Homo sapiens: one gene and its partner. The protein of the gene in region 2 interacts with the protein of the main gene of each other region in a biochemical or structural test. Each region holds a gene or a part of one and is shown on either strand. Other genes may lie near its edges.

Evidence for each region. Proteins that work in one complex are often made in the same cells at the same time.
Region 1: the proteins of FGF7 (region 2) and PTX3 form a complex in vitro, tested with the Homo sapiens proteins (one study listed by BioGRID).

What each region holds. Positions count from the first base shown.
Region 1 is NC_000003.12:157,439,850-157,444,133, reverse strand, and holds the end of PTX3 (pentraxin-related protein PTX3 precursor), read right to left. Parts: intron 1,769-4,284; coding exon 1,155-1,768; 3' UTR 501-1,154; downstream 1-500.
Region 2 is NC_000015.10:49,485,742-49,489,241, forward strand, and holds the end of FGF7 (fibroblast growth factor 7 precursor), read left to right. Parts: 3' UTR 1-3,034; downstream 3,035-3,500. UniProt on the Homo sapiens protein: Plays an important role in the regulation of embryonic development, cell proliferation and cell differentiation. Required for normal branching morphogenesis. Growth factor active on keratinocytes.

The sequences.
Region 1 (4,284 bases), on a different chromosome or scaffold from region 2:
GGAGAATACTAGTGTGGTGGGGAAAAGTTACCTCCCCATCCACAGTGTGAAGGGGCTTGACCTCTCCCTTCTGAGTAAGGAAGAGAATGGGGTGTGCTTTCAGGGCAGGAGTTCTTTTCCAGATTCTTAGGTCTCCCAAATAACATTCCTAAGCCATGTCTTGCAGCATCATGTGTATCTGAGGAACTGTGATAATTCATGTTTGGTGTTTGTTTTTATGTTACACAGTACAGAAAGTTGTATAAGCTCCTAGAATTGTCAAATGGGAAGAGTCCTAGAGATTCTTATTTCATCAATTCCTTGATTTCTCAGCTGAGAAAACTAAAACCCACAGAGATGAATTGACTTGGCAGAGATAATATTTCTTGCTTATGATTTATAGGAAGCCAAACTTAAAACAAGTCTATAGTTGCTCATTCCTAACAATATTAACCATGCTGTTTACATAATAGTATCTGAAAACTAATTGCCTACTTTAAATGAAAAGAGAAAAGTACGAGTTTGCTCCAAAACATCTCTTAAATTTATAATTAAATGACGTGAGCTAGTTTTATAAAATATTTTATTTACAGTAGAGCTTTACAAAAATAGTCTTAAATTAATACAAATCCCTTTTGCAATATAACTTATATGACTATCTTCTCAAAAACGTGACATTCGATTATAACACATAAACTACATTTATAGTTGTTAAGTCACCTTGTAGTATAAATATGTTTTCATCTTTTTTTTGTAATAAGGTACATACCAATAACAATGAACAATGGACAACAAATCTTATTTTGTTATTCTTCCAATGTAAAATTCATCTCTGGCCAAAACAAAATTAACCAAAGAAAAGTAAAACAATTGTCCCTCTGTTCAACAATACAGTCCTTTTTAATTATTTGAGAGTTTATCTGACAGAGACACAGCATTAAACTGAAAGCACCATGGCATAAAGTCTAGTAACATTATCCTCAAAAGCTTTTTCCAATGTCTTTCCTTCAACTGTTTATTCAGTATTTGGCCAGTACAAATAAAGATTGGTCTCAACTCTCTCTTTCATTAGTCTCAAGTGTTCCTATTATGCACTGAGTTTTCAGACCTTCCCAACTGGCATGTGTTTTAAGTGTGAGTTTCTTTCTTTGGCTTCAAGTGGAGTTTCACAACATTTATGAAACATACTGAGCTCCTCCATGTGGCTGGATCTCTGTGACTCCCCACCCAACAATATTCCCCCGGATGTGACAAGACTCTGCTCCTCCGGTCTCTCTTATCTCTTCATTGCTAAGAACACTATCCCAGATATTGAAGCCTGTGAGTCTCCCAGAGAAGGCTAATGTTTCATCAAAGCCACCACCCACACAGCAGCCATTCTTTTCTTGGCCAATCTGCAGGATTCCTCCCTCAGGAACAATGTGACCTGTGGCCATCTCAACAGTGGTAGCCGCCAGTTCACCATTTACCCACAAGGATGTGAGCCCTTCCTCTGAATTCCAGGTGCCGCACAGGTGGGTCCACCTTCCCAGGGAAACCATGGCTTCAGCAACCAGTTTGTTCTCCTCTCCACCCACCACAAACACTATGGATTGGTAGCTGAGATACAGCTGGATTTCATATGGATTCCTCTTTGTGCCATAGGAAAACAGGATGGTTTTGTTTAATACATCTGTGGCTTTGACCCAAATGCAGGCACTAAAAGACTCAAGCCTCATTGGTCTCACTGGATGCACGCTTCCAAAAATCTTCTTGGAACGCATTGGGAATAAAATAGCTGTTTCACAACCTAGAGTAGCAAGAAAATAAGAAGAATATTAAAGAAAATATAAATTAATTCAGAATTATTCTGGCATTAGTTATTTAACATAAGAATTTTAATTATTACAATTGAAAGCTATGTGAAACCCTACATTACGACTTAAGAAGCTTCCACTGTAATCTCTGCAGAGCAAAGAAAATGAGAAAAAGGAAAGCCAATTGTCTTATCCAATGAAGCATCTAAATGAAGAGAAAGCACGCAAATAGAAGAGCCAACTAGTCCAAACCCACAAAATAATAAAAGCCATAACTACCTCCCCTTCCAATTTGCATATTTTCTTTGTTACTGCTTTTTTTTAAAAAAGTTGAATCACTATCAGTTAACTTCAGACAATAATTCTATAATTTCCAAGAATTCAGAACCCAACCTGGTTCTCTCTTTTTGCCACCACCAAGTTCCTAAAATAATAAACCTGTGAAATTCAGTAGACCTAGTTCGCTCCATTTAGCCTTTACCAACATGCATTTTTCAGCAAAATTCTAGGATAGTGATGTTATTGCAGAATACATTTTTTTTTTTTTTTGAGACAGAGTCTCACTCTGTCACCCAGGCTGGATTGCAGTAGTGCGATCTCGACTCACGGCAACCTTCGCTTCCCAGGTTCAAGCGATTCTCCTGCCTCAGCTTCCGGAGTAGCTGGGACTACAGGTGCACACCACTGCGCCCAGCTAACTATTGTATTTTTTTTTTAGACACGGGGTTTCACCATGTTGGCCAGGTTGGTCTTGAACTCCTGACCTCAAGATCCGCCTGCCTCAGCCTCCCAAAATGCTGGGATTACAGGCATGAGCCACCACACCTGGCCTGCAGAATACATTTTAATACACCAAATGTTCTCAGATATTTGTAAACTTTGCAGAGTTTTTAGAAAACTACCTTTGAAAGGCAACAATGTATAATAATGATGACTAAGCTTATTGGGCATTCACTATGTATCAGATACTGTTCTAATCATTTTGTTTGTCATTTTAATCCTTATGCCAACCATAAGAGATAGTCTTTTACATTCCTATTTTACAGATGAGAAAACTTAGGTAAAAGTAACTTATCTATGTTTACATAGCTGATAAGCAGTAAAACTAGAGTTTGAATTTTTGCAGTCTGGTCACAGAGGCCACGCCCTTAATCAGCACACTACAGTGCCTCTTATTAATAGAACCCCTAGATTTCTCTAGGAGGGCTAGAATCCAGATGGTGTTACTACTAATGAGCCATGCAACTTTGGATGAGCACCATAATTTCCTCTAGGCTTTAGCGTTATCTAAAAAAGGCCCTTCCATTCTGCTCCTAATATTCTGCAAGTCTGTAAGCAGCAAGTATGTAGCACTTAAGAGCTGAATAGACCAAAAATGTGTTTAAAAATTCTACCTTGTCCACATGCTTATAATTACTATTTAAGCAGTAATTGAAAATCTTTAAGAGAAGTACATTCTTTCAAGGGGCCTGGTTGGAGAACATGTTTCTGCTAAAGAGCACTTGGGAGGGGGACTTTCAAATTTGAGGTGGAAAGCTCAGTAAGTTTCCACCATTGTCCATCTCAAGGCGACTTAGCCATTTGGGAAGCTGGAGATGCTGAAACGAAAACCTTTTACGTGTCCCTGGGAAAGAACAGGTGAGCTCTGCATCTATATACATAAATATATATATATGTATGTATACGTATATATACACACATATATACATATGGATATGTATGTATGTATACATACATATATGTATATAAATGTGTGTGTATATATATGTGTGTATGTGTATGTAGGTATTTTTTTAAAAACACCTAAATTAGGGCAGGTATAACAACCTAAAGAAGATATGCCATAAGACAGCTTTGAAAAGCAAACTCCCAGAATGGTTCCAGAATAACTGGTAAAGAGAAAGAACTTGCAGAAACCAAACATCCATGTAAAAGTGTGGTAAACTATGTCAGATTCCTACAAGTGGCTCAGGGGTAGGCTCTATCCTGAAAACATTAAACAAATATGAACCTTATCCTTTAGTGTTAGGGATAGTCAAATAAAATATTGGCATTCAGATAATCATATAAAAGTAACTACAATACTAAAACACAAAACTGGCTCTGTCATGCTTTGATACTTTTTCACTAAATAATTTGAACTTTTGAAGATTTTTTAAAATTAATTTTTAATGAGGCAGTGATTCTATTTTCAAATGAAATTGCTAGGTACATCTTTTCTTCCAGCTGTGTTAATTAAAATCAAATAAAAATCACTGAAAAAAATCACCATATCCATGGGCATTTGATATAGTCTCTATAAAGTTTCAATAAAGTAGTGTTCAATCACACCTGTAATCCCAGCACTTTGGGAGGCTGAGGCGGGTGGATCACAAGGTCAGGAGATCGAGACCATCCTGGCTAACACGGTGAAACCCCGTCTCTACTAAAAATGCAAAAAATTAGCTGGGTAAGGTGGCGAGCACCTGTAGTCCCAGCTACTCAGGAGGCTGAGGCAGGAGAATGGAGT
Region 2 (3,500 bases):
AAATCATTACAAATATAAGTATTTACAGGATTTTAAAGTTAGAATATATTTGAATGCATGGGTAGAAAATATCATATTTTAAAACTATGTATATTTAAATTTAGTAATTTTCTAATCTCTAGAAATCTCTGCTGTTCAAAAGGTGGCAGCACTGAAAGTTGTTTTCCTGTTAGATGGCAAGAGCACAATGCCCAAAATAGAAGATGCAGTTAAGAATAAGGGGCCCTGAATGTCATGAAGGCTTGAGGTCAGCCTACAGATAACAGGATTATTACAAGGATGAATTTCCACTTCAAAAGTCTTTCATTGGCAGATCTTGGTAGCACTTTATATGTTCACCAATGGGAGGTCAATATTTATCTAATTTAAAAGGTATGCTAACCACTGTGGTTTTAATTTCAAAATATTTGTCATTCAAGTCCCTTTACATAAATAGTATTTGGTAATACATTTATAGATGAGAGTTATATGAAAAGGCTAGGTCAACAAAAACAATAGATTCATTTAATTTTCCTGTGGTTGACCTATACGACCAGGATGTAGAAAACTAGAAAGAACTGCCCTTCCTCAGATATACTCTTGGGAGAGAGCATGAATGGTATTCTGAACTATCACCTGATTCAAGGACTTTGCTAGCTAGGTTTTGAGGTCAGGCTTCAGTAACTGTAGTCTTGTGAGCATATTGAGGGCAGAGGAGGACTTAGTTTTTCATATGTGTTTCCTTAGTGCCTAGCAGACTATCTGTTCATAATCAGTTTTCAGTGTGAATTCACTGAATGTTTATAGACAAAAGAAAATACACACTAAAACTAATCTTCATTTTAAAAGGGTAAAACATGACTATACAGAAATTTAAATAGAAATAGTGTATATACATATAAAATACAAGCTATGTTAGGACCAAATGCTCTTTGTCTATGGAGTTATACTTCCATCAAATTACATAGCAATGCTGAATTAGGCAAAACCAACATTTAGTGGTAAATCCATTCCTGGTAGTATAAGTCACCTAAAAAAGACTTCTAGAAATATGTACTTTAATTATTTGTTTTTCTCCTATTTTTAAATTTATTATGCAAATTTTAGAAAATAAAATTTGCTCTAGTTACACACCTTTAGAATTCTAGAATATTAAAACTGTAAGGGGCCTCCATCCCTCTTACTCATTTGTAGTCTAGGAAATTGAGATTTTGATACACCTAAGGTCACGCAGCTGGGTAGATATACAGCTGTCACAAGAGTCTAGATCAGTTAGCACATGCTTTCTACTCTTCGATTATTAGTATTATTAGCTAATGGTCTTTGGCATGTTTTTGTTTTTTATTTCTGTTGAGATATAGCCTTTACATTTGTACACAAATGTGACTATGTCTTGGCAATGCACTTCATACACAATGACTAATCTATACTGTGATGATTTGACTCAAAAGGAGAAAAGAAATTATGTAGTTTTCAATTCTGATTCCTATTCACCTTTTGTTTATGAATGGAAAGCTTTGTGCAAAATATACATATAAGCAGAGTAAGCCTTTTAAAAATGTTCTTTGAAAGATAAAATTAAATACATGAGTTTCTAACAATTAGAAAAGAAAAAATTAAAACATGAAATGATAACAAAAGTAAACAAAAGATACTTTCAAAGCAGTGAACAAAACATTTTGACATAAGCCATAATATAAATTATAATATAAAAAATAAAAACCATAGTATAAATTGTCAGCCTTTGAGTTGGCTACAAATTCAATTTAATGACAGAAGAGAAGGGATGCTGGAGGTAAATTCTTAGGGTTTCTATCTCATAGAGTTTGCTCTTCTGGTTCTCTAGACTGCCAAAGAACATAAAGATGTGCGAGGGGACCTAGCTGTAGTAAAAGCAATCCTATAACAAGAAAAACTCTAAAACAGTGCCCCTTACGATTTTCTACTGAAATTTCTCTAATAGTAGAGGTGTAAAATAAGAAGTTAGAGAATAATGCAAAGGGGGCCCACCACAGACGGAACATTTCTTTTCTCTTAAGACTCATGTGATTTTTGCATCTTACTCCATAATATATTTGTGGTTGCGTTAATATGACAATGTCTGCAATTAAACACCAGTAAGCAAAATTGATACATCAGAATGACTTGCAGGGCTTATCATGCAGTTTGGTTTACATCCCTACTCCACTGCCATTTACTTGAGCGTGAATGAGACACAAAAGATTATTTGCCTCCCATAATCCAACTTTACACATAAATAACACAAGGCTAAAGAAAACCAGAACTCAAATTCACCACGCATAGGAGTGATAACAAAAATATTTAACAGTCAGTATGGGTGATTACTGGCCAATCAGAATACATCACTGATACATCGAAATGGATGCAGGCCACTATGACTAACTTGTGGGTATCATTTCTATGATCACCCTAAAACAGAGTTGGGAAAATATCTATTAACTGGTCTCTCTGGTTTGAATTCTCAATATGTATCTTAATATGAAATAGCTCATTAAAACTTCATGTGTAACTATTTCAGCATTGTTGTCAGCTACTCTTTATTCCACTTCTGTACAGTATTTATTCAACCAAGCTGCTGCTTTCAATGAAGGTCACTTGTTCCTTCAGGGACACATATACTCCCACCTATCCTTTAATTTTGAATGGTTTGTCAGGAAAATTTACTTTCTCTTGAGTTGAAAAACTTGACAGGAAGCAAGAAATAATACAGTCCTAGCCTCTTTCCAATAACATCTGATTTCTCCATTCTCAAACTACACTTCTCAAGGAACCAGATATTTACTCTCATCTGGGAAGATGCCTCTTATGTTTTCCTTTTACTTCCTGGTTATCATGTGGTTGCATTTTCCAAGTTCTTATCATTGAATTTATGAGAGCCTATCAAAATTTATTTTCTTTCATTTATATTCTAATAATTGAAATGTGAGATGAAAATAACATTTCACTTATGAAAAACCCTTCTCTTGATGAATCCTTCCATGTGTTAGTTATCTATTGCTGTGTAACAAATTAAAACTTAATGGCTTGAAACAAATATTTGTTTTCTCATAGTTTATGTGGCTCAGGAGCCTGGGCATGGTTCAGCACAGTGTTTTTGGTCAGAATTCCTCATGAGGCTGCAATCAAGGTGTAGACCAGGGCTGTAGTCATCTATCTCAATATTCAACTCAGAAAGGGATCCACCTTAGATCCTCACTGGCTGTTATCAGGACCTATCACTTCCTAACCACATGGACCTCTCCATAGCACTGCTTACAACATTACAGTCTGTTTCCCACGGAGCAAGAAATCAGAAAGTGTGAGATGAAGTACCCAAAATGGAAGCCACAGGTTTGTTTTTTTATTTTAATATATATAGCCTAGTTTCAAAAGCGATGTTACCTCTGCCTACACTCATGAGGAGGGTATTATACAAGGGCATACATACCAGAAAGCAGGGATCACTGGAAGCCATTTTACAGGCTGCCTGATCCAAGTCATAAACTAGGTGTTTTTAATGT